Regions from separate parts of the Homo sapiens genome. Here region 1 is linked to region 2. The links come from fine-mapping of genetic effects on gene expression. A gene starts in region 2. The other region holds a variant in brackets. All regions are shown on one strand. Distances are from middle to middle. Region 1 holds the start of LOC105373581 (a long non-coding RNA gene). Region 2 holds the start of STEAP3 (STEAP3 metalloreductase).

Region 1 (11,937 bases), 42 kb before region 2:
TGACAAAGTGAGACCCTGTCTCTAAAATATAAATATATATATATGATATATATGTGTGTGTACACATATATGTATACATACATACATATATATGTATGTATACATATATATGATATGTATGTATACATATATATACACACATATATATAGCATTTTGTTCTTGATTTCTAACTTTCTTGCACTCACTTGAGAGAATGCCGATACTTATTATTTGAAATTTATTGAAATTTGCTTTATGGTATAATATGTTTTCAATTTGTTTTCTTGAGAAAAATATAATTTTTCTATTTCGTATTATATCCAACTTGTGTTGTTATACACACATACATGTGCACACATGCATATAATTGTCTGTTTGTTATAATCTCTTAGTATAATGAGGGATTTGTTCACATTTCTTTCTTTTTTTTTTTTTGCTTTACATATTTTGAGGCTATATTATTAAAAGCACATTATTCTAAAATATTTAAATCTTTATTTTATTATTATGTAGTAATTCTCTGTATTCCTAATAATGTCTTTTCTCATAAAATATGCTTTATATGATAATAATCTAGCCACTCCAATGTTAATTTAGTTTGATTTTGCCTAACTTACTTTTTTCCATGTCTTTACCTTGAGTCTTTAGGTATGCCACTTATAAATATAACTAAAATCCAATCTGACCATCTCTATCTTTCAACTGAAGTGTTTAATCCATTTGTATTTATTGTGATTATTGCAGGAGGACAAGTCCTTGAATGACCTTGGCTGATTCAGCTCTCCCTGCTCCTTCTTACAATTCTTGGGCAGAATGTACTGAGAATGTAACATCCTGGGATAAGGAAGAACCATCTAGAACAGCCTGGGCTTTGTCTTTGTTCCTCTCAGAACAAGGTGCTCTGCAATGCTTAAGCTCAGTGATTTAAGTACCTGTAGGGTATAAAATCCAGAGTGGACTGCTTTCAGGGTCCCTCAGCTGTAGTGTGAAGTTGGGCATATGCAGATGGGATTCCGTCTGCCCTGGGCAGCTTGCTTGAGTTCTGGGGGACCAGCTCCCCACGGATTCTATGCTTCTATCTTTGCTACATATCTGTGAGTAATAAGTCGGCTTTGCCTGACTTGTGCAGGTGTTTTGTCATACCAGACTCAGACTCCGGCAGCTGGGTTTGTGCAAAACCTTTAGAAGCTGTGTTTGTGTAAAGACTCCTGCCAGACCTGGGCATCCACCAGATACAGGAATCTTTACAAAAATTGGCAAAGTGTTTAGAGTCCTCTCCTGGTATCCAACATATGGTGTGCCCCTCATAAGGATTGATACCAGTGCATGGTATTCTGTTTCACAATTATGAATATATGTGGATTTTTTCTAATACCTACTTTTTGTTTTCTGTGTCTTGCTTTACCTATGCTATTTTTCTTGTTTCTTGTTTTTCAAAAATCCAATTAAAATTTTTTTCCCTTCCTAAGGATTTTGGCATTATACTTTTAGCTTTTTATGGTTACCCTTGACATTTTTCTAGATGTACTTAACAAGATCTAAATTAGCCCATAACTTTCCCAACCCCAACCTCTAAACAAATATGAGCCTCAGAACATTTTAACTCAATCCCTTATTTACATATCATTGTTTTTAGCCAGTTAGTATGTCTTTTTTTTTTTTTTGAGATGGAGTTTCACTCTTGTTTCCCAGGCCAAAGTGCAATGGCACTATCTCGGCTCACCACAACCTCCGCCTCCCAGGTTGAAGCAATTCTCCTGCCTCAGCCTCTTGAGTAGCTGGGATTATAGGCATGTGCCACCACGCCCAGCTAATTTTGTATTTTTAGTAGAGGTGGGGTTTCTCCATGCTGGTCAGGCTGGTCTCCAACTCCCGACCTCAGGTGACCCACCTGTCTTGGCCTCCCAAAGTGTTGGGATTACAGGCGTGAGCCACCGTGCCCAGCCTAGTATGTCCTTTAAAAAAAAACACTTACATAGATATTCTTCTTCTATAGAGAAAAGGTTTGCTTAGATTTACCTTGAGGGTCACCACTTATTCACTCACTGTTTCTTCTTGTTTTCAGATTCCCCTCTGGGATCATTTTCTTTCTATCTGAAGTATATTTTTAGAAGTTCTTCAGAAAAGAACTGTTGGTAAGCTCTCAATTTCTGTAATCTGAAACATTCTTATTTTGCACTCAATCTTGAAAGTCAGTTTTGCTTGATTTAAAATTCTAAGTTGGCAATCACTTCCCCCTGAACTTTTAAGATATTAGACTACTATTTTCTAATCTCCATTGATATTGTTAAGAAGTCTGTTGTAATTCCACAATTGTAGGTCATTTATAATTTTTCTCGACTGCTTTTAAGAGCTGCTTAGTGTGGCTAACTGTAGCTTTACTTTTAAATTTGCTTTCCTGCCTGATGGTATACATTGCACTTTCAGCATTTTTGGATACCAGTAATTCACTAGTTTTAGAAAATTCTTGGTCTTTATCTCTTTAAAATTTGCCTCTTCACCATTCTTTCCTTTTGGAACTCCAGCTATTTGTATGTTATAGTTGTTCATTTTAACCTTTATCTCTGTTAATGACTTTTTTATATTTTCTATCCATTTGTCTCTCTTTTGCATTCTGGGTAATTTTTTTAGCTTTTAAAATTCACGATTTTCTCCAATCTGCTGTTAAACTCACCAAATTAAGTTTGTTTCTGACAATTTTTTATTTCTGAAAATTCCATTTTTCATCATGCCTGTGCCTTTATAGTATATTATTGCTTATTTATTTTTTGCAACTCTATTTTTTAATTCTTTAGATACTTAATATATCATTATCGTATGTTTGACGATTCTGTTCTTCGAAGTCCTTCAGGTTTTGTTTCTACTGAGTCTCACCTATGGTTTATTAATTGTAAATATTAAGCTTCTTATTTGGTTGATCTGAACTGAGGTTGCTTTTCTTCAGAAAGGACTTGCATTTGCTTCTGCCAGGAGCCAAGGAGAGCTTTTTTTTGTTTGTTTGTTTTTGATTTTTGTGTGTGTTCCCATTTATTTTCTGTCCTGATGATTTCCCTTACTTCCTGCAAATTCAGTATTGCCTTAAAAAGTATGTCTTTTGTTTAGGAACTAATTGTGTTTTAAGCAGGAAGACCCTTCAGGAAGTTAAAAGCCCACATGAATTCTTTAGTTGCAGAAGTTTTAAATGTTGGCTAAAATTAGATTTTTAAGAATAGACTCTTCATATATGAGAATTATAGATATAAGTTAGGTTTCTGGTCCAATAAATGCAATCAACCCTCAATAAGCAAGAGTGTTGATTATTCACTTTATGGGAGGATTGGCAATGGAAGTTTTTGGTTGCCTAGTGCATCAAAGTTCCATTTGTGACTGTTCATTTCTGAATAGAGAAAACAAAAATGAAGCCAAGGCATTTCTGAGTGACTATTAGAGATGACACTGAACTAAGACAAACTACCTAGAATTATTAAAGAAACTGGTGAGGGAAAATGGAATTTAACTAAACAAAAATCTACTTTGCACACTTCCCAGGAAACACAATTTGGTATATTTCACTCTGGATAAAAAATGGTTATAATCAAATTTTGTTTTTGTTTTTTAAACCCTATCAGTTTTTCTGGTCTGCTCCCTTTACATTTTCTCCAACAATTATTTTCAGCCATTTTGTCCCTCTTCAGCCCTCAGAGCCAAACCTTCCTCCTCCCCTGTTCTCAGCAGAAGGGATTGACTGTTTTTTTAAAAAGAACAGACAACATCAGAAGGGAACTGTCACATGCTGTGTCATCACAACTAGCCCCTCCCCTCAATACTCAGCCACTTCTTTTCCCCTTCTCTCCTAGTTGTAAAGGACAATCTCCTCCTCTAAAGCCACCTGTACTCTGCACTCCATCTCTTCCCATGTCCTCCAGGACTTTGTGATTCTCTATCATTCTCTCTCTCATCTTCCATCATTCCTTTTCACCTTGTTTATTCCCCAGAAGCATTTAAAACATGTTTAGGTCAGAACCATGGAAAAAAATAACCAGCCCTCCTTCAACCCCCACATACCCCTCCCATTACCCATCCTTTCTCTTTCCCTTGCTTTACAGCCAAATCTCAGAAGAGTTGTCCAGTATTACTGTCTCCATTTCCTTCTTATTCATACTCAATCTGGATTTTACCCTCAACATCCTACTGAAATTCTCACCATTAGGTTTCCATGTTTCCAAATCTAGTTGACATTTATTGGTCTTCACCCTATGTGATTTCTTCATAGCATTCAACACAATTTCAAACACTCACAGTGGACACAGTACACACACACACACACACACACACACACACACGCACTTTTATCTTAAAATGTCAGCTACAAATGAGCCAACAATGTTTAGTTGAATATACTGTATTTAAAAACCAATTTATTTATTGTAAGGCTATTAATATAATAATTATTCATTATTAATGTTATATATGTATTAGTGTAAATTATTTCTACTTTATGTTTCAATTTAGACCTTACACTGATTTTAAAAATTATATGCATAGGTAGGTTATATTATTTCTGAATTTCATTTCAGAAATTAGTAAAGAGATTTTCAGAAGACTTGTTAGAAGAAGTCAGTGATTGTGGATGGGACTGAGAATTTCTGCTTTAGTGGAGCCA[A/G]CTCTCTCTTGGTTGAGACCAGGGAAGTGGCCCAGCACAAGAGAGCTTCTGCACTCCAAGAGCTAGCTTCATTGCTTTTGGAAAAGATTCAACGTGTCAAACAGCTAAATGATAACTTTCTCTCCTGAACTGATATGCGTGATTTTGGTGGTTCCTTAGTTCTTACATGGGCTACCTTGGTAGGGGGTATTTTTCATCTATTTGATTACTTCTTTGTAAAGTTAACTCTCTCAGCTTTATGCATGGGAGGACACAGAGGAGAAAAGTAAACCTCCAAGGACAAGATGCTTTTCACCTTGAAAATTGTTTGTCATGAATGTATTTACTGGCCATGGTTCTTTCTTTGGAAAATCCTTATAATGAACTCAAAATGGCAGGGCTGTATTTTGGTTATTGTTCCCAAGAAATGGTTTTTAGCCACTAGACCACTTTCTGCACTGGGTTTCTTGCCCCCTTGCCCTGTACCATAAGGCAGTCTGGTTGCTTCAGCAGGAAGGCTCGGCTGCATGGTAGTTGGGTGGTCTCTGAAGAGAGCTCCTTTTGTTTTCCTGATGGACCCAGGGCCAATGTGCCGCAGCCCTCGTGAAGCACAAAGTGCAAGGCTGTGGCTCCAAGATGGAGTGTTTCTCCCTCTGCCTTTAAGAGAACACGGGGGTCATAGATAGCATTGTACAGACGTGTACCTTGCCAGGGCTGCCAGGGGAATGCAGGCTCATGGGGAGGATTGAGGGGACAGAGATGTGTGTGTACAGATTAGTGTGCCATAGACTAAGCACAGCAGAGGCAAAGAATGCCATCTAAGCTCTTGTCGCTCGGAGTGTCCGAGGATCATCACCATACAGGTCACCCAGGAGCTTATTAGAAATGCACAGTCTCATGCCTCACCCCAGACCACAAATCAGAACCCGCATTCGAACCACATTCCTAGGTGACTCCCAGGCACATTATAATTCAAGAAGCTCTGCTGCTTTTACCTGCACCGAGGCCTCAGCCTTCAGACCACTCCAGGAAGCCACCTTTTCACATCCCCACACCCCCACCCGACACTCTGTCACCTGGATCTTGCCCATTTCCTCCCTGGCATGTCCCTTAGTCCCTTAGGTCTGCACATCTGCCCTTCCTCATTGGCCAGCTCTAGCACAGATCACTGTGTTCACCTTGGCAGTCCCAAGTCCTTGCACACTGCCTGCCTGAGAGCAGGCTCCAAGCTGAAGGCTTCTCGAGTCAGTGGACGAATGGATACGTGATCTACATGGCAGAAATAAAAGCCTGAAGTTTGCAGAAGGTTAGGTGTTTATTTGCACTGCTTTTATACTGTCTACCAGGTTAAAAAAAAAAAACAGAGACTCTTTTGAAGGCATAGATTTTAGATATCAACCTCAGACTGTGGCATTTGGGATTTCCAGAGCATGTCGTTGAGGCACTTTTGTACCCAGAGGCACATGGAATTTACCAGGCTGTGGAGATGATGTGCTCTCGGGATGCTGCTGCCAGTAGCCTGGTGAGGTAGGGAAGACAGCAGTGGACGCACAGTCAGGGCCCAGTACACAGCCCGCCTGCCTTTCGTGTGATTGTCCAGCAGGTGGCACCTGTTCCCTCCTGCCACCCACCTTATAATTGCTTCCCTCTTGAGCACCTTCAGCCAGAGGTGGGTGGGAAGGGGAGGACGTGCACTGGGTTCTGCTATGTGCCAGCATCTTTGGTATAAGGAGCCATTCCCTGGCCCAGGGCAGGCAGCCAGTACCCACCGGGGTTGGGGATCATTGGTGGGTCTCCATTGCCCATGCTCTCCCTGCCTCTCATTAGTAGGGAATCGATGGGCCCTTGTTATGCCAAGGCAATGCTAAAATCTCTGCTTTACCTGCCCCCTTCTCAGCAAGGCTCTCTGTGGGCCACAGCTGATGCTCCATCAGTGCCAATTTATGAGACAAGTTTCTGCCGCTCAGCCTTGGCACAGCAGATGGAAAATACCTGCAGGAAGAGCTTCCCCGGCATGGCCTTCCCTGCATCGGTCATGTGCCTAATGAGCTATCCTTGCAGTGGGCTCTTCTCCTGCTTTTCACTGAAGAACCCTTATGTGCTGCATAGACATGAGCTCATGAAACCTCCCTGGCGGGGGGGGGGCAGGGGCAGCCTCATCTGTGACATTCTCTCTGGGCAGCCTTCACTGGCCCTACTCTCTTCCTTCCATCAGAAGATGGCTTTGGGCCCAGGAGACTCATGAAGACCTCACCCTCTTTGTCTTCAAAGATGCTTTTTCTGTGGCAGATCAACCTGGTTCTGCAGAGGGTTGGGGGCTCAGCCGAGAACACCTGTTTCTTCACAGGGGAAGTAAGCTAGAGTCAGTAGGGAGCAGCAAGGATGGCCTGTGACTGGAGGACAGACGTCCTGTGGCCCCGGCGGTGCTCTTCCCTCTTGTGCTTTGGGGCAGCAGCATTTTAGGTTTGTAGCTTTGGTGGAAAAGTTGCTCCCCACTGTTTTGAAGTGTAATGCCCCATGAGGAGGAAGTTGGAGCCAGTGTGGTTTTCTGGGTCCTCTGCCAGAGGACATTTGGAGTCCCCAATATTTTTCCTCAGGACTGACTTCGTGAAGACAGTCCTTCAGCCCAGGCAGGGCTCAACTCTGACGCCCGGGGAGCTTTACTCCCTAGAGTGTTTTCTCTTGCTCTCCCCCTTGGGCTGATTTCTAAAGGGTCTGCTCTAGGCCTTCCTGGGAGTCATTCAAACTGAAGATGGAAAGGGTGAGAAGGCACAGTGGTTTAAAGGACGCTCATCGCCAGGTTAAAGGAGGGAAGGAAATTACACTTGTTCCCAAGCCAGGCTCACTAATGGCTCTGGAAAGGAGGTGACGTCACTCTCACAGGAGGATCCATTTGCAGGCTCTATGGTGACTTCTGACTTTCAGGGAAAATGTCTCCCCCACTCAGCAAGGATGAGGTGGAGCAGCTTCAGCCCAATCCCTCCATCCTCCCACCACCGGGCAAAGGACCAGGCACAGACTCCAGGCCGACTGCCTGATTTTCCTCCTCCCCAGGCCTCCTGCTGCTGCCCCAGGTGGAGGGAAGAGACCAGCCGCTGCTCACATGCTCCAGGGATGGCTCTGGGCAGAGCCGTTGCCTTCCCTCCCCTTCAGAGCCCTAGCTCTGCAAGAGCCTTGGGGAAGTAGCAAAAGGGAAGTTGTGGGGGTGGGGTGGGCAGGGATAAATCGAACCCACCACAGCACAAGCCTCTTCTGTACAAAAAGTGTGTGTATATCTCTGCAAATGTCACAATAGCATGATCTGCTCTTCTCTTAACGTACGGCACTTGTTTTTAAATCTACAAGTTGAAATCTCAGAGACCCAACTTTTTAGCTAGCTATGTATAATTGCAAATCCTGTTATATATGTGGAATATATGTAAATACATATACACATATGTGTGTATATCATTCTGAATAGTACTGCATACATTTGAGTCCCAGGAATTTGGACCTCAAACCTCCTATTTGCACACAGTTATACCACTTTGCACCACCAAGAAAAGAAAACCTAACGGGCTCAGGGCACCGTCCCTCGTGTGCCCGGGGTCCAGAGCCCAGGGCAGGCACCTCATACGTGGCTCGTCTTCTCGGCCAGGGCGTGGTCTGTGGGCAGCGTGAACTTGATGGTGCTCTCCCTCTCCCAGCCTCTCCGGATCCTGGCGAGTCTGCGGCTGATGCAGGGCAGGAGAAACAGGGCTTTGGCCAGGATGACGACGCAGGGCACCAGCAGCGTGAGCGTGAAGGTGGGAGGCAGGTAGAACTTGTAGCGGCTCTCCTCGAAGGCGCGGGTCCAGCCGTAGGTGAGCGTGTGCAGTGTGCTCAGCACGAGGGCCACAAAGCCCAGTGAGGACTGTGGAGGGAAAAAAAGGCTGGAGTGAGGGCGAGGGGATGACAGATGCAGTGATCCTGCCAACGACTCATCTGCTGGCCTGGCGGAGGGGAAGGAGGGTGGCTTTAGTACTCACCGCTATGGGTTGGAACCCCAGTCCTGTCACTCTCTTAGTGTGATCTTATGATAACTCTCAACTCTCTGTGCCTCAGCTTCCACAACAGGAAAATGGGAATAATGCTTCTATGCTGAAGGTGTCTAAGGACCCACCAATTCACACGGATTCCATACAATAACTATATGACCATGCTTTTTCCTTAACTTTGTTATTTGTTATCTCTGGAGGCTGCTGGATGATTTCAGATGGAATTAAGTTCAAAGAAGTTTAAAAAACATTTAAGGCCTGCTGCGGTGGCTCTCGCCTGTAATCCCAACACTTTGGGAGGCCTAAGTGGGTGGACTGCTTGAGCCCAGGGGTTCAAGACCACCCTGGGCAACATAGTGAGACCCTGTTTCTACAAAAAATACAAAAAAATTAGCCAGGCTGTGGCAGCATGTGCTTGTTGTCCCAGCTACTTGGGAGGCTGAGATGGGAGGATCACTTGAGCCCAAGAGGTCAAGGTTGCAGTGAGCCAAGATTGTGCCACTGCACTACTGCACTCCAGCCTGGGTAACAGAGCAAGACCCTGTCTCTAAATATATATATACATATACATGTATATGTGTGTGTGTGTGTGTGTGTATAAATTTTACTAGTTATGTGTGTATTTTAATGTATATTAGAGTAACAAGTGTCTGCTTGCATACCAAAATCATAATTTCACAGATAACATTTGGCCTAAGTTAAGATCAGACAAAAAGTGGATTGATTTTAAATTAGCTTGAAGATAAATGCAGAGTAAATAATTTACAGATGGCACGTGGATTTGGCACCAGTAGCGAAGGGGACTCACGGGGCCTGTGGTCTGGGTGACCTGGCACCGTATAGAAAGCCCCAGAACACCACACAGATGCCCTCTGTGCATGCTAGACCTTCACCTCCCACCCCACACTGGGTTATAAACAACCCGGGTGGAAACCCCGCTGGGCCTACTCTTCCATCTGGAGGAGATTAGTGACCGTTGGGAGAAGAGACCATCCCAACTCTAAATGGAAATGGTCCCGGCCATTTTACAATGGAGCTTCACACCCCTTGAACAATGTGTGGGCTTTTGTGGGTCACTTCCAGCCGAGAGTGGCTGATCCACCACCCAAAGCATGACTTTCTGTAAGAGATGCAATGTGAAAATGGCTGGGAAGTGCTGCTCTATGACTCCAGCCTCTTGGCATGTACGAGTTCTCGTGGACCACGAAGGAAGAGATGCAGGTTCTACTGTTGGTGCTGGTTCAACTGATATGAACCCTGGGCAGGCGACTTAATCAACTTCAGTGGGAGATAAGTAATTTCCAAAGCTAAAGTCAGAGGGGGAAGCGCTGAGTAGTTGCAGTAGCCTCCATCTAGTCCCCTAGACAGGGCAGGCAAGTGACACAGCAGAGGGCACCGAGAGCGAGGGAGTCGTGGCACAGGGGTGCTCTGACTGAATTCTGCTAGCACTGGTGAGCCACTGAGAGCTTTGGGAGAGACCTCCCACGTCTATTACACAGGGATGGAAATAGCGATGACCCATCAAGCAATGAACACATATGCATTTTCTCCAAGGAGACATTGCGAGGGTGTAATTTAAGTGTGGCGGCACACTGAGACCTCTGGGTGGTCTGCATGGACTGAGCCTCCTGGATTCCCTTCTAGCCCAGCTTGTTGGCATCAATCCAGAGCCTCGGCTGACAGACGCTTCTCATTTGCACTCCCCTCAGAAGTGTTTCTAAGTGGGTCTGATTCCACATTGGGCCCCGTTCTTGCTCCTCCCTGGTGTGTGTGTGTGTGTGTCCCTTCATTTCCTGCTCCAGGACAGACACCAGGACAGTGAACGTCAGTGAGTGAAAGAACATGGTGTGGGAGAATTGCTTGTAAAGCTTTTGCTAAAGATAATAATAAACATTTTCCAATGGCTGCACACTACAATTTCACAGACAGGTTCTCACGTTCAACATTCTTGGGCCCAAGTAAAATAACCAAATAAAACCTTCTCTATCCTTCCTCACCCTCTCTGGTTCTTCTTGGCTTTGTGTCCATTTTTGGAATCTTCTTGGCCCAGTCTTTAACAACTTCTGGCTCACCACGAAGAGTGAGGAAGCCACGATTGGCTTTATGCTGTCACCCACAGTGAATTCCTATCATTTTAATGTGGTCACCTCCCAAAGAGAAGACTCCTTGACTGTCAGTTGCACATAAGCAAATCCTTGCCACTTCCAGAAGTGTCTGTCAAGAATTCCAAATCCCCTGCAACTTCTGAGCCACCCCAACTTTTCTAAATTCTAATCTCTTAGTGTGGAAGACTGTGGTTAAAAAAGTCCCCAGCACTGACCATCAAGAATAAGTCTTGGCTGGGTGCGGTGGCTCACGCCTGTAATCCCAGCACTTTGGGAGGCCGAGGCGGGCAGATCACCTGAGGTTGGGAGTTCAAGACCAGCCTGACCGACATGGATAAACCCCGTCCCCGTCTCTACTAAAAATACAAAATTAGCCAGGTGTGGTGGCGCATGCCTGTAATCCCAGCTACTCGCTTGAACCCAGGAGGTGGATGTTGCAGTGAGCCAAAATCACGCCATTGCACTCCAGCCTGGGCAACAAGAGTGAAATTCCGTCTCAAAAAAAAAGAAAAAAAAAAAAAAGAGTAAGTCTTGAAGTCAATCACCCTGATGTTCCCCAGCCAGGTGCCCAGCCCTAACTAACTGTGGGCCCTCCCACCCCTCCTCATTGTGGACTTATTGGTGTTGCCAAGATGGCTGGGTGATGCCCTTTATCCCCAAGAGTTTAACAGTCTGTGGCTTTTAGACTGTGGTTTTCAAACCTTGCTACACATTAGAATCACCCGGGGAGCTTGGGTAAAATACTAGTGCCCAAACCCCACTTCCAGAAATTCAGATTAAGTTGGTTTGGGGCGGGGCATCTGTTGTTTTTTAAGGTTCGGCGGATGAGGCTGATGGGCAGCTAGGACTAAAGCCACTCATTTAGGAGACTGTCGTCACCACACCCTTCTAGCTTCAGGGTGAAAAGTCCACACGGGCCCCTCTGCTCAGGTCACTTGCCTGAGGAAGACCTGGACCTATCTGTTCCTTAGACAAAGCCCCACTGAGAGCCTTTTGGCGCCCACCTCTGTGTCGTGGGCTTTCCCAGGAGGTGCAGCAATGGGAGCCCATCCAGGCCTGGAAAGCCAGCCTTAGTAGCCCCAGTGAGGTCTTTGCATCTCCCTCGGGTGACATGCCCTGTAGCTCCAGTGTTTGGTCTGTGTGGGCCACTGTCCCCAGCCCCTGATCTGGAGAGTGATGAATTTTGCTGGGCACTCTGGGCTCTGCACAGGGACA
Region 2 (12,445 bases):
GGCTTTGAATTCAGACAGGCAGCTGTGTTAGTTGGGGGACCTAGCTGGACAGAGATGTGTGTGAATTCCGGTCCAGCCATGTGCTAGCTGTGTGACGTTGGGTAGGTTGCTTTCCCTCTCTGTCCTGATGATTAAACAGTGAATATGAAACCCCTAAACACATGTCTTCCTTAGGACTGTTCTTGTGTGCACCTTTCCTTGCTCTGCTGTGGCCACTCACTGCACGTGGCCCCTCTGCCACTCTGGGTGCTCTATGGTCAGCTGAGGGAGGGACCTAAGTGCCCTCCACCCCTGCACATCCTCACAGCCCCTCACATCGCTCTCTGCTTAGGTGAACTAATAATACAAAAATTAGCTGGGTGTGGTGGAGCACACCTGTAATCCCAGCTGCTCGGGAGGCTGAGGCACGAGAATTGCTTGAAATTGGGAGGCAGAGGTTGCAGTGAGCCGAGATGGCACCACTGTACTCCAGCCTAGGTGGACACCTGTTGAGCCAGCAGGTGTCAGGCAGTGCTTTCAAATATTTGTGAACACCAGAATCGCCCGGGCAGTTTAAGTGGGTGGGTTTCTGGGCAGCCCCAGGCCCAGAGTCTCTACTTCAGTGTGTTGGTGTGGGGTGGATAGGACTCTATTTTCCTGTCAAAGCTGCTGGGGGGTCTCCAGATCTCTTTGGAGAAGCTGCACTGTGAGGAAACCGCACCTGAGGAAAGCAAACCTTTCTGTTGCTTTTGAGAGTACAGGAGCTGGAGAGTACGCGTTCCTGGAGGGCTCCAGGTCAGCTGTGACAGCTGCCCCCTGGGGTTCTCACTGAGACCTTGGCTCTACCCTGAGCTCCCTCAGCCTTGAGACTTCTCCTCCTCTCAGCACCCCCCACAAGCCATGCCAGATGTTAAAGGTCATGGGAGGGTAAGCGGCAGCCCCAATGGAACTCACACCAGCACAGGTGACACAAGGTTTCCAGCCTCCAGCCTTCAGATCTGGGAACACCAGGAGGGCAGGGCTTTCCCAGATGCCTGCCCCTCCACCCACCCATCACCCTGATTTCTGGCTGCTGGGCCCAGCACTGTCTTGCTTCCTTCCCTTCCAGTTCCAGGCACCACCTTCTTTCTGGCCAGTCCAGAGACATCTCCAAGGGCCAGAGGGTCATCTCCAGAGGGCCTGGTGTCACTTCCCGCAGCTGCTCTGGCCTTTCACCCAGGTTGGGGCGATTTGATGGACAGTGGTGGGTCCCCTCAAACTCCACTGCATTCAGCGTGCTACTGACTCATGTGCAGGCCTGGGCAGTCACCCAGAAAGCCCCCCTGGATGCCAGCAAGCCCACTGTGGCAATGGGCAGGCCAGACCTCACCTGGAGGGCCCAGCTCACAGCCACTGTATCCTCTAGCTGTGCACCCAGAGTTCACCTTCAGAGAGACACTTGCCCTGACTGGGGGTATACTGTTACTCTCTCAAGCCCACCAGGAAAATCACGCACCACTCCCCACAGCCTACTGGCCACCCCACCAGTCGGATGCTTATAGAAATGGGAAGCAGCCGGCTGTGGTGACTCACACCTGTAATCCCAGCACTTTGGGAGGCCGAGGCAGGTGGATCACCTGAGGTCAGGAGTTCAAAACCAGCCTGGCCAACATGGCAAAACCCCATCTCTACTAATAATACAAAAATTAGCTGGGTGTGGTGGAGCACACCTGTAATCCCAGCTGCTCAGGAGGCTGAAGCAGGAGAATTGCTTGAAATCGGGAGGCAGAGGTTGCAGTGAGCCAAGATGGCACCACTGCACTCCAACCTAGGTGACAGAGCGAGATTCTGTCTCCAAAAAATAAATAAATAAATAAATAAATAAATAAATACAAGAAATGGGAAGCTTGTTCCCTCACAGACCCCAGCATGCTGGCTTTGGGAGCCCTGCTGTCTACACATGAACCAAGACAGCTGACACCACAAAATAAAGCTTAGTGGGCCCATTCACCGACCCCAAATCTCTTTATATGTACCGAAGTCGGCTTTATAATCTTGGGGCAGTATTTTTTTAACGTGTTTAATAACAAGGCTTAAACATGTGATCTTTGCTGAACTCCCACCTGGCTCTCATTAAGCAGAAGGCAGAGATGGAGTAAGTCACAGCCTGATTGCGGAACAATCAGTGCTCACTTGTTGCCCACGCTGCCCGGTAACTGTGGGCATGCAGAAGACAGACTGACTGGGAAGAGTTGAGTATCGAACAATTCTCCGGTGACAGTGTTCTTACGGTGCTGAAGCAATGAACGCCTGGCCCATTCAGTGCAGGGCTCACGAGACCAGGCCACACCTGAAGAGGAACACACTCTGCCCCTGGGTTGAAGTGACAACGCAAGAGTTTGTGATCCACAAGCAGTCGCCCATCAGCCCTGATGGCAGGCACAGTGGTTGATCCCTCCAGCTCAGTGGGTGAGGGGAGCGGGTGTCTTTGGTTTTGCATCCTTGCTCACTCACATGAGCTATAGGTCCTGAGCCTTACTGCCACCGTGTCTCCTCACTCAGATTCGCAAGTACGCAGAGGGCACGGGTGTTTGTGGGGTGGTTGATGACAACAACACTCATCCTGCCAGAAGTGGGACTCAGCTGGTCTTAGAGTGCCTGGCTCAAAGTTAGTGCTCGGTAAGTGTTTGTTGAATGAATAACCGATGAGGCAGAATTTGGACAGGAGAATGTGGCAGTTAGTTAGTGGCTAGGAGTCTCAGGTTAGGGGTGGAAAAAAAGAGGTTGGGGTCCATATGGAGTTGGAAAGTCACATGGTTGGGAGAATAACATTATCGACCTCCTAAGAGTCTCCAGGTACAAATGAGCTCCTGTAGATAAAGTGTTTGGCCCGGATGCTGGCACATGGGAGGCTGAATGTCAGTGATGAGGACTGGCATTTCAGGCAGGATGGTGAGGGTGTGTGGCATGCCAAGGATGTGACGGTTGGAGCACAAAGAGGCCCGGGACCTGTGGGAGGCTGTGTTGGACAGGTGGGTGGACCCAGCTGCAGGAGACAGATGGGAGGAAGAGGGACTTCTGTAGCCCAATGTTTGAAAACCATCTAGTCTCCAACCCCGATCCCTGCCCCTCTCCTCTCCAAGTTCTGTAATCTCCACAGCCTCTCAAATTGGGATGGTTTGGCAGGGGTGGGGTAGGAGCAGAAAAAAGCACACACCCTTCCAACTCCTAGAGGGAGGAAAGGCACCAACTTGGCCTTAGGTTTTAATAACTACTTAAACTGGTAAACATCCTCATTTTAAATCAAGAGGCAACTCCCTGGTCTAGATGCTAGAAAGCAGTTTCATAGTGCTCAACCTGCTCAGCTCAGGAAGACCTGGCCACTACGCACCGTGGGTGGACAGGAAAGAGTGGATCCAGCCTCAGCTGGAAGACCAGAGAGCCCGACTCCCCAAATGACCTGCTTCCTTCCCTTGCCCCAGCCTGCCTGAATCTCACCCCAGCCCTCTCAGTTGTTCATTTGTAGCTGGACAGGGAATGTAGCAGGCAGCGTAGACCGCCAGGCTGGGAGGCATCAGCTGAGACTGAGCTGGGAACCCTGGGACTTGGAGCCAAGGCCAGCTCTGCCACAGAGCACGGAACCTGGAGGCCACTCTCTAGGCCTCAGTTGCCTTCTCTAGGAAAGCTAGTGGTTCGGTCTACAAGAGCACTAGGCCTGGAAGGCCCCTCACTGGTTAACTCGCAAACCTGAGGTGAAGAAGGAGGGATCCGATATTTACTGCACTCCTAAAACTCAGCACTTCACACACTTAGTCCCCCAAATAGGCATACTTGTTTTATGAGGATATCCTGTTTGAAGCCCTTGGCAAGGTTTTGCAAATAAACAGAGGTTCAGAGAGCTGAGGGCTTCATGTTACGGGGTAAGGAGCTGAGATTTGGACTCGTCCATCTGACTCCAAAGCCAGACTATCCCCAGCACTCAGCCAGCGACCTTTTGCCCACTCAGCTCTCAGGTGTGCGCCTTTGGACTTCACTCAAGAACTTTCACTTTTTAACCACCTGAAGCCCTGCCCAGCACCTTGGTCTCTGATAAGTCCAAGAAGGGAAGGGCTGTGGGCCAAGGATAGGAGATATGAATGGGAGAGGAATCTACCTGTTTGACATCTCTAGGCTGGAGAGGGAACATGTGTGATCCCAGCTTGACCTGGCCTGGTCCTGGGGACCTCAGCAAACCTGGGGCAGGCTGTTCAACCCCCAGGTGGACAAGTGGCCCAGCCTGAGCTCCCTGCTGGCTCTGAGGCCAGCATTAGACTGTGTCACTTCCATACCTGCTGCCGGATTGCCTGGCTGAGGCCACCTGCTCCATTTAAGCCCCCTTCAGGACACTAGTGACACCATCTACCCCACCCCGCCCACTTACCCATTAGACATTCACTAAGCACCTGCTCCTTGCCAGCCCCTCTGCAGGCCACCAGGGACAGAGATGAGTAAGACATAGTCTGGGTCCTCCAGGTGCCCCTAGCTGATTCAGTCAGCTTCGGATGGGACTTGGGGATCTATATTTTTAACAAGCCTTGCAGGTGACTGAGAGGACACACCCAGGTGAGACCCTTTGGTTTTGTGGACCTTCTGGCTCTCAGCACTGTATTCTTGGGGCTGCCAGAATCCCCGTGAGGACACAGCCTGTTTCGCCCCAGTGGTAGGTTCCTCTGGGCTCCAAGTCAGATAACTCTGGGTTCAAATTCTACTTCTGCAACTTCCTAGCTGTGTATCCTTGCAAAATACGTGGACTCTCTGAGGCTGTTTCCCCATTTTTAACAAGAGATAATGGTGCCTTCCTGTTGTGAGGATTAACTGGGATATTGTGCTCAAAGCCCTTAGCAAGATGCCTGGCACACATAAATGGGAATATCTGCTGTTAATTATATTATGGCTGCACTCTGATGGACAGAAATACCTCCCTGGGGGCATTTCCAGAATCCCCACTTCTGGAGCCCATCTCTGAGGTGGCCCTGGATATTTGGGAGGCCTCTCTGTGCCCTCTGCCAGGGCTCCAGCGGGACCTTCCTGCTTCTCCCCACGGATCCGGCTTTCTGGTCCCCAAACCGCATATTATCTGGGCACACCCTCCCCTTCATTTACCCAGAGTGACCAAAGTTCCAACCACACCTCTCCGGGCAGCCTGTCCCCAAATTTCGGGGAAGTGGGCAGGAGGGGGAGCTTTGCCGGGCAGGAGGGGGAACTTTGCCAGGCAAGGGCTCCGCGGGCAGAGGCGGGCACTGGTGAGGCCAGCCTCCTCCTGGGGACCAAGGTCGGGCGCCCCTGCCCAGCCCCTGCACCTGCCCCTGTCCCTGCCCTGTTCGGCTGCGAAGGGACTGGGAGGTCTGGCGAGGAAGAGCCTGGAAGATCCCCGCCCACAGCTACCAGCCCTCCTTTGGGACCGCTGGCCAGAGCCCCAGCCGTGGGGCACACGGGACCTGTGGACTCAGCCGGGGTCATCCGGAGGGGCGCCCACATCTGCACCCGGGGCTCCGGAGCCTGCTCCCCGCCACTGTCGCCGCCGGCCCTGCCTAACCTGCGCGGCGCAAGCGGCTTCCACGCCTAGGGAAGGAAGGCACACGGGGTGGGGGCCCCGGAACCCGGTTTCTCTGCCGCCGGGCGCACGTGGCTCGGTCCCAGGGGACAGAAGTCGCCTCCAGACGTGTGGCGGCACCCGAGGTCCGCGCAGCGACGGCGCAGGGTGCAACCGGGCGGGCGTCTCGGGGACCGGGCGCAGCACGCAGCCCCGCGGAGACCGGGGGAGGGTACACTCACCTCTGCGGCCCGCCGCTCGGAGCGACCGCGGCAGCTGAAGGTCCGCGGCGAAGGCGGTGGCTCGGCCCGAGGCTCCTCCTCCCCCGCGCCCCACCCGCCCGGGAGGGCCGGACCTGCAGGGGAGGTGGCCGCCCTCCAGCCCGCCGCAGCTTATCCGGCTCGGCCACCTCCCCCGGGGCCGCAATCAGGAGCCGCCGGGTCCTCGCTCCCCGCCCAGCCCTGCACAGCCCCGGCAGCGGTGGCAGCGTCCAACCACCCTCCTCCCCTGGCCCCAGGCGGGAGGTCGCCAGCCGGCGCCAACACTTCCTGATTTGCAGTGCCCGGCACACGGCTGAAGTGAGCAGAACTCCGGGACCTCCTCTTAACCCGGCCACGGAGGGCACCGAGGCCAGGGTGACCTCTAGGCCCCCCTCTCTTAACCTGAGGAGCACCTCGAATCCTTGTCCATTTTATAACCGAGGCCAAGTGGCAGCCACGGTTGCAGGTGGGAAGAGACCAGGGCTCCAGATTGGGTCCGGATCCCTTCCCTCTCAACAAGGTTGCGCCCAGGCCTTTGTGGTCCCCCCCCAATCTCTGTCCCTTGTCCACCCTTAGGGCAGACTTTTGACCCTTCCCAGCAGTCCTCAGGTTCCAAGACCGGTGGGATGGCGGGTACCTTTCTCCCGGAGCTGCCTCCCTGTCTAGGCCTTCTGGGCTCTGAAACCCTACCCGTCCCCCCTTCCCCCTGGGGCACTGCCCGCTGCCCTCCGCACTTCCAATGCCGATGGCTTCACAGCACTGCAGCGAAGCAGGGCGTAAGTAAGGGGAGGCTGTCTGTGGGCACCTCTCTAGAGGTGTGCGCCCTGGTCCGAAGCCCCTTCTCACCTGTGGTCACATTTGCCGGCTGCAGTTATTTTCTTTACAGGTGAGGAGACCCGGGCTTTTCCGCTCAGATTCGTGGAGGCTGAGTGGGGGTTCCTGACCCCTGGTACTCTTTCTAGAGTATTCCTGGGAGACATACACTATTAGCCTCTGATAAGGAGCTTCAGGTTATTTTTAGGAAGTCTAAGAATCCTGTTTTCTGGGGAGCCAGCCTCTGTTGGGGAGATAAGCCTCCGGAGGCCAGAGGCAGGAGCTGGGCCTCAAGGAAGGCCCCACAACTGGACCCCAAAGGGCACGGTGGGGAGGAAGAGGCAGAGCTCTGGTCTCCCTGTGGAGGGAGTGCTGCTGTAAAGCGCCTTTCCCTCCACCCCCAACTCCCGCCGAGAACCCCCCCACCCCCGCAGGCAGTTTGCTTTCCCCCTCCACAGCTTTCCTCCTACCCGAATACCCACCTCCCAGCTCTCTGCTCAGCCAGGGCCCAAGGCCAGAGCCTCTCTTCTCTTGCAAGAACTTTCCTGTCCCACCTTGCCCCAGGGCAACACCTCTTATGGCAATTCTTACAGGTCCTTTATCCATTCAACACTCACAGTGCCCCAGGTGCCAGACAGTGCTCCCAGTGCTGGAGACACACGTGCCCAATGGAGGTTCCTGCCCTTAGGGTGCCAGGGCTGGTGAGTGGCCCCTGCAGTGGGTTGTAAACTTTGAGAAGACAAGACCCAGTTCCTAGCCCCCTCTGGTGCCCCTAATATGCTCCCCCTGCAGTAGCTGTTCTTTTGATGCCTGCTCCTGCTGATGGGGATGGCTGAATAGCCTTCCTTTAATGCCCAAGGACAGCACAAGGAAACCGAGCTTGGGAAATGCAAACACTGAGAGGTCTTCCAGCATCTTTGGAAGAATCCCTGGGAACCAGTGTCTTTTTGTGGGGCTCTCCATGCATGAGTAAGAGAGAGGAAGACTTTTTTTTGAGGCGGGGAAGCGGGGCTCTCCATGAGTAAGAGAGACAGGGGGAGACATTTTGAAGGCTGGGCTGCCAGAGGTCTATAGAGGATTATCTTAAAAGGAACATGAACTCCTGCTGGAAAAAGTAGAGGGGTCTGAAATTTCTCACAGACAGGGAGGGAGGTGAATACCCTACTTGGGCCCACACACTTTGGCAGAGAGGCCACCGCCCACGCCGTTGACCTTTGGTGCTTGTTCTGTCCACTGACCGTTGGACTAAGGGGGCCTTGAGTGTGAGCTTGTCTCACCTGGCATGGGGTCAGGTGTTTCCAGAAGCTTGAGAGCCAAATTTCCCAAAGCAGACGAGCCCTTTCCTACTCCAGGGAGGAGTGCAATGTGCTGAGCTTTGTTGAGCACCTTCTATGGGCCAGACTCTGGTGTCCTCTGCCAAGGATAGAACAGTCAGAGCCATCCTTGCAAGATGTTTGCCAGATCGCATTTCTCCTCTGCTCAAAACTCTACCCCCTCCCCCAGCAAAAGTAAAGTCCTTGCAATAGCCGTGGCCCAGTGTGATTGGCCTTCTCTCTGCCCTCATCCTCTGTCTCCCTCTCTCTGCTCACATTCAGTCCCACCTCAGATGAATCTGACAGGATCCTGACCCCTGCCGTTCCCCTTGCCTGGACCCTAGGCATCCCCAGGTACCCTCCCTACCTCCTCCAAGTCTTGGCTGAAAGGTCATCATTTCTGTGAGGCCCACGCTGATCGCCCCCATTCCTCATCCATGTACCTGCTTGCTTTCTTTTTTTCCCCATAGCCTGTATTACCTCTGAACACACTATAAAATAGAGTTTTTTGGACTGTTTTTCAGTAACTGTCTTCTCCCATAGAAATGTGAGCTCCTCCTGGGCAGGGATTTTTATGTTTTATTCAATTCCGTATCTCTAATGGATAGAGCACTGCCTGGCTCATAGTAGGTGCTCAGTAAATACCTGTTGCATGAATGCACACCCGTCCTCACACTTCCTTGCCTCTTTTAGCATCTCAGAAATGTCCCCACAGCTCCTGCCTACTCTGCTCTCCTTTTTATGCCCCCAGCTGGTGTGATGCTGATTCAGAGGGGTGCTCCACTTATGCACTTAGGGATGTCTGCCCCTGGAGTTGCTGAATATTCAATTTACAGAGCCCCTGGGATTGCCCTTTTTCCTTGAAGACAAGGTTAGCTGTTTGGCTAAGAAGAGAATAGCATCCAGGAGAAAATCTAGATTTATTTCTTATTTGATCAGGAAGGAGAGGGATGTTGCTCACCCTCAGCTTCTTGGATTAATCCAGCATTTATAGGATGGGACAGAGCAGGTCCACTTCACAAAATAAATCCTCCATGAAAACGAGATGGCCACGGGAAGCTGTATGCCCCAATGTACTCTGACACCCTAGCCAGAAGCCAGGCCACTTGGATCTGGTCCTGCCCAGTGGGCCGTGGCTGCAGGAAAGGTGCCGCTCCCCACTGATGCTCTCCCCACTAGACCAGGTGCTGCAGGACTCCTCCAAGTTCTGGAGCACAGGAAGCTCTTTCCTATGTAAGGCTGCATTCAGGGCAAATGGAGGCATTGTCTTTGCCATCACAATGACCTGATGGGTGGAGGCACATCAGCAGCAGTCAGAGCTGAGGCAGGGCAGGTAGTGGGAGAGGGCACTGAGCGGGGAGGCCAGCTGACAAAGGGGTGCTGGAGCCTGGGACTGAACCTCACAGATTCTGCTTTCCATGGCCCATGATGGTGACCCAATATTGTACAGCATTATAAAGTGTGGCTTACAGGGCATTAGGACACCCCCCCCTCCACATACACACACGAAATGTCCCTGCACCCCAGAATTTGGAATTCTACTGGAGCATAAGGTTGTCCTCCTTCCAGTCTTCTCTCGAAACATGAGCCCTCCAGAGAGGAAGCACTGTCTGAGCTCTGTGTCATGAGAATCTGTGTATCTGCAGGGAGATGTAACTGTGGCCAGCGCAAGAGTATGGAGTAGCTTCCAAAGGAAGTTGCTTTTTATTTGTTTATTTTGGCTCAAGGGAGCATTGATAAAGGCAGTTGCTGAAGGAAGAGTGGATAAAAGATGCCAGGGTGGAGGGTGGGTGGGGGAGCAGGACCAACCATCTTTCTGAGGGAGCTTCCTGGCGCGTAGTAGGTACTTAAACTTTTGTGTATGATCAACGGTCTTGGCTTGTGACTAGACCAAGATCGCCAACCAGAATGGAGGGAGGCTGACCCAGCACATCCCGGAAGCATTTACAGAGCCAAGGAAGAGATTCTTCTTGCCCGTCTATGATAACATTGCATTGCCTTTCAGCTGGGGGCGATTAGAAAGGCACTCACTACTAGATCATGGGAGATGCCTGGGTTTTAACCCCTTGCTGCTCGGAAGGTGGTGATCATGATGGCCTGGGAGGGTTTTAGAATGGCAGAGTGTCAGGCCACCCCAAAGCTCCCAAATTAGAATGGCATTTTAACAAGACCCCCTAGGAGGTTGTATACGTGTTTAAGTTTGAGAAGCGCTGGTCTACATTACAACTGAGGAAACTCACTACTCCCTGAACACCTGCATCAAGGTAGATTCACAGAAACCTAGAACTGGATGACACTTCCCCTCACCAGGGTGCATGACAATATCATACTTTTTGCTTGCTAAAAAGTCCTTGTGAGGCAAATAGTCTGATAATCTTCTGAATTTCTACAAATATGGAAAAATAACTCTACCCTTTTCAACATCAGTGCCTATTACACAAAGCTCCAAGAAAAAAAAAATCATGATTAATATTTTTACTCTTTTCCCATAACTGATCATATTTCCCCTTTTACTGTGGTAGCCAGGATACTCAGGCACATGTTCACGACTATATCGTCCTTATTAAATATATTTAAATGCTACTTTCTTTCCCCCAGTCCATGATTTTTTTGTCTGATTTACTACTAGCCTTATTGCTAAGCTTTTCGAGGTAAGCCGTCCCAAGCAGCCTTTGGAAAAAGTCAACCGCGTAAGCAAAATAAATAGGAAACTTCTGTGCACTCCAGTAAGGGAGTCCTCTTTCCCCTTGACTGCTGTCACCTTTCGTGGTCGTGGCACGTCCTCTGCTGGATTTTTGAGCCAAGGACAGAGGGTTTGGGAGAAGGAGGCCTCCTTGGACTTCTGCCAGGAGTTACTGAGAAAAGAAAACCCAACCAGCTGGGGGGCCAGTTGGGGGGAAATCTGCACAGGATGTTCACACTGTGCCCCTCCCTGCTTCTTTCCTGACCCCCAGAGCTCACCTCAACACATCTGGAGTGTAGGGTGTTGTCTGCCCTGTCAGACCACTCTCCACACACAGCCTGGGGCAGGAACAATGGGACAGGTGGCTGGTGCTCACTCAGCACAGCAGGGGTGGTGGAAAGACACATGTCAGCTGAGGCTTGGCTTCAGGGCAGGCAAGTCACAGCCAAGTCACAGCCCAGCCCAGCATAGGCAAGGTGTAAAAGTCACTGGCCTCAAGGTCATACGCAAACACACTGTGATCAGAAGTGGAGGTAAATACACCCCACAGGGCTGGGATATGTTCTGGCATGCCCAATTCTGTTTCCTTGGTCTTGGCCTTCAAGGGGAGGGAAGGGAAAGGAAAGAGAGTTTGCTGAAGTCCCACCTGGGGCAGGCATCGTGCTACATTGAGGTCAGCCCCCTTCAATCCCCACTGAGACCCTGCAGAATGGGTGGGATCAGCCCCATTTTTCAGATGAAGAAGTGACTTTTTTAGTATCATGCAGTGAGGAAATGGCAGATCCGGGATTTGGACCAGGTCTGCCTGACTCTCAGATCTTCCACTACCTTTGACCCGCTAGGTGGAGGGCTCCTGTGAGCTGTGGCCTACACACCTGTGGTGATCCCTCAGTACTGAGGACCAGGACCAGCTTAGTGTGAGGGCCCAGCAGGGGCAGTCCATGCAGGGAGATGAACCTGGGGGATTTTCTCCCAAACACTCCTCACAGAGCTCCCTGGCCTGCCTAGGCAAGATCCTACCAGCCATCCCCAATCACTGGTTGTGTCTACCTGAGATCTGCACAGCTCGGATGCAGGTCTGTGGAATATCAGGCATGTCACTGAGAGTCTGGTTCTGTGTGGTGTACTACCTGATTTCATGGACACACACACAGAAGGCCATCGTCTCAGAGCCATCTTTAGGCGTTTGCTGGTTACGGCAGCCTGGGAGAAGCCAAGTCACTGCAAGAAAAGGTAAGGGAGATAATGGCTCGAGACCCTCCCTCAAAGGTCTAGGGGCACAGCTACCCAGGTTTGGGGCCTCCAGGGAAGAGGGGAGATGAGACCTTGGCTTCTGGAGGCTTCCATAGGGTAAAGGAACATGCGCAGGCTTTGAAACCACACGGACCTGGTTCAAATTTCACATCTCCGCTAAGTCTCCATTTCCTCCACTGTAAAATGAGTGTATAGACCTCTTAACAGGTTGTAAGAATTAAGTTCCCAGGAAAGTGCTGGGCACTTAGTAGGTGTTCATTAAAAGGCTGTCAGATAATCTGAAAGGAAAAGAAACGGTGTTCAGAGAGGAAGGGAAATACTGAAGAAGACAGTTCCCAAAGGAAATTTACCTCCAGGCAGGCTCTGCTCCACCCCCTTGGAAAAGGTCTTCTTCCTTATCCTGTGTGATGATCTAAACCCTCCTTTTCTCTGAGAGGCTCTCAGGGAACTTGCTGTCCTCTGGCCTCCCCCTCTCCCACAGCGAGGAACCCCAGGTGGGCAAAAGACGCCAGTGGCCCCTCCTCCTCTTTCTCCTTTTCTCACATGAACAGTAGGTGTTGTTGGCACCCTGGTCTGGGAATCAGGAAACCTG

The links.
Region 1: its variant is fine-mapped to the expression of STEAP3 in whole blood (INTERVAL, PIP above 0.99).

What each region holds. Positions count from the first base shown.
Region 1 is chr2:119,259,613-119,271,549 of GRCh38, reverse strand. It overlaps STEAP3 (STEAP3 metalloreductase), which reads right to left. Exons shown (of 6, transcript NM_182915.3): 6 at 5,898-8,493. The coding sequence ends at 8,212. It overlaps LOC105373581 (a long non-coding RNA gene), which reads left to right and starts at 544. Exons shown (of 2, transcript XR_001739666.3): 1 at 544-876; 2 at 2,046-5,925. RefSeq lists a silencer at 6,127-6,226 and an enhancer at 11,361-11,937. The variant A/G (reference allele first, on the strand shown) is at 4,623.
Region 2 is chr2:119,217,216-119,229,660 of GRCh38, reverse strand. It overlaps STEAP3 (STEAP3 metalloreductase), which reads right to left and starts at 5,827. Exons shown (of 6, transcript NM_182915.3): 1 at 5,773-5,827. RefSeq lists silencers at 5,175-5,244, 5,305-6,084, 10,494-10,788 and enhancers at 10,997-11,593, 10,964-12,163.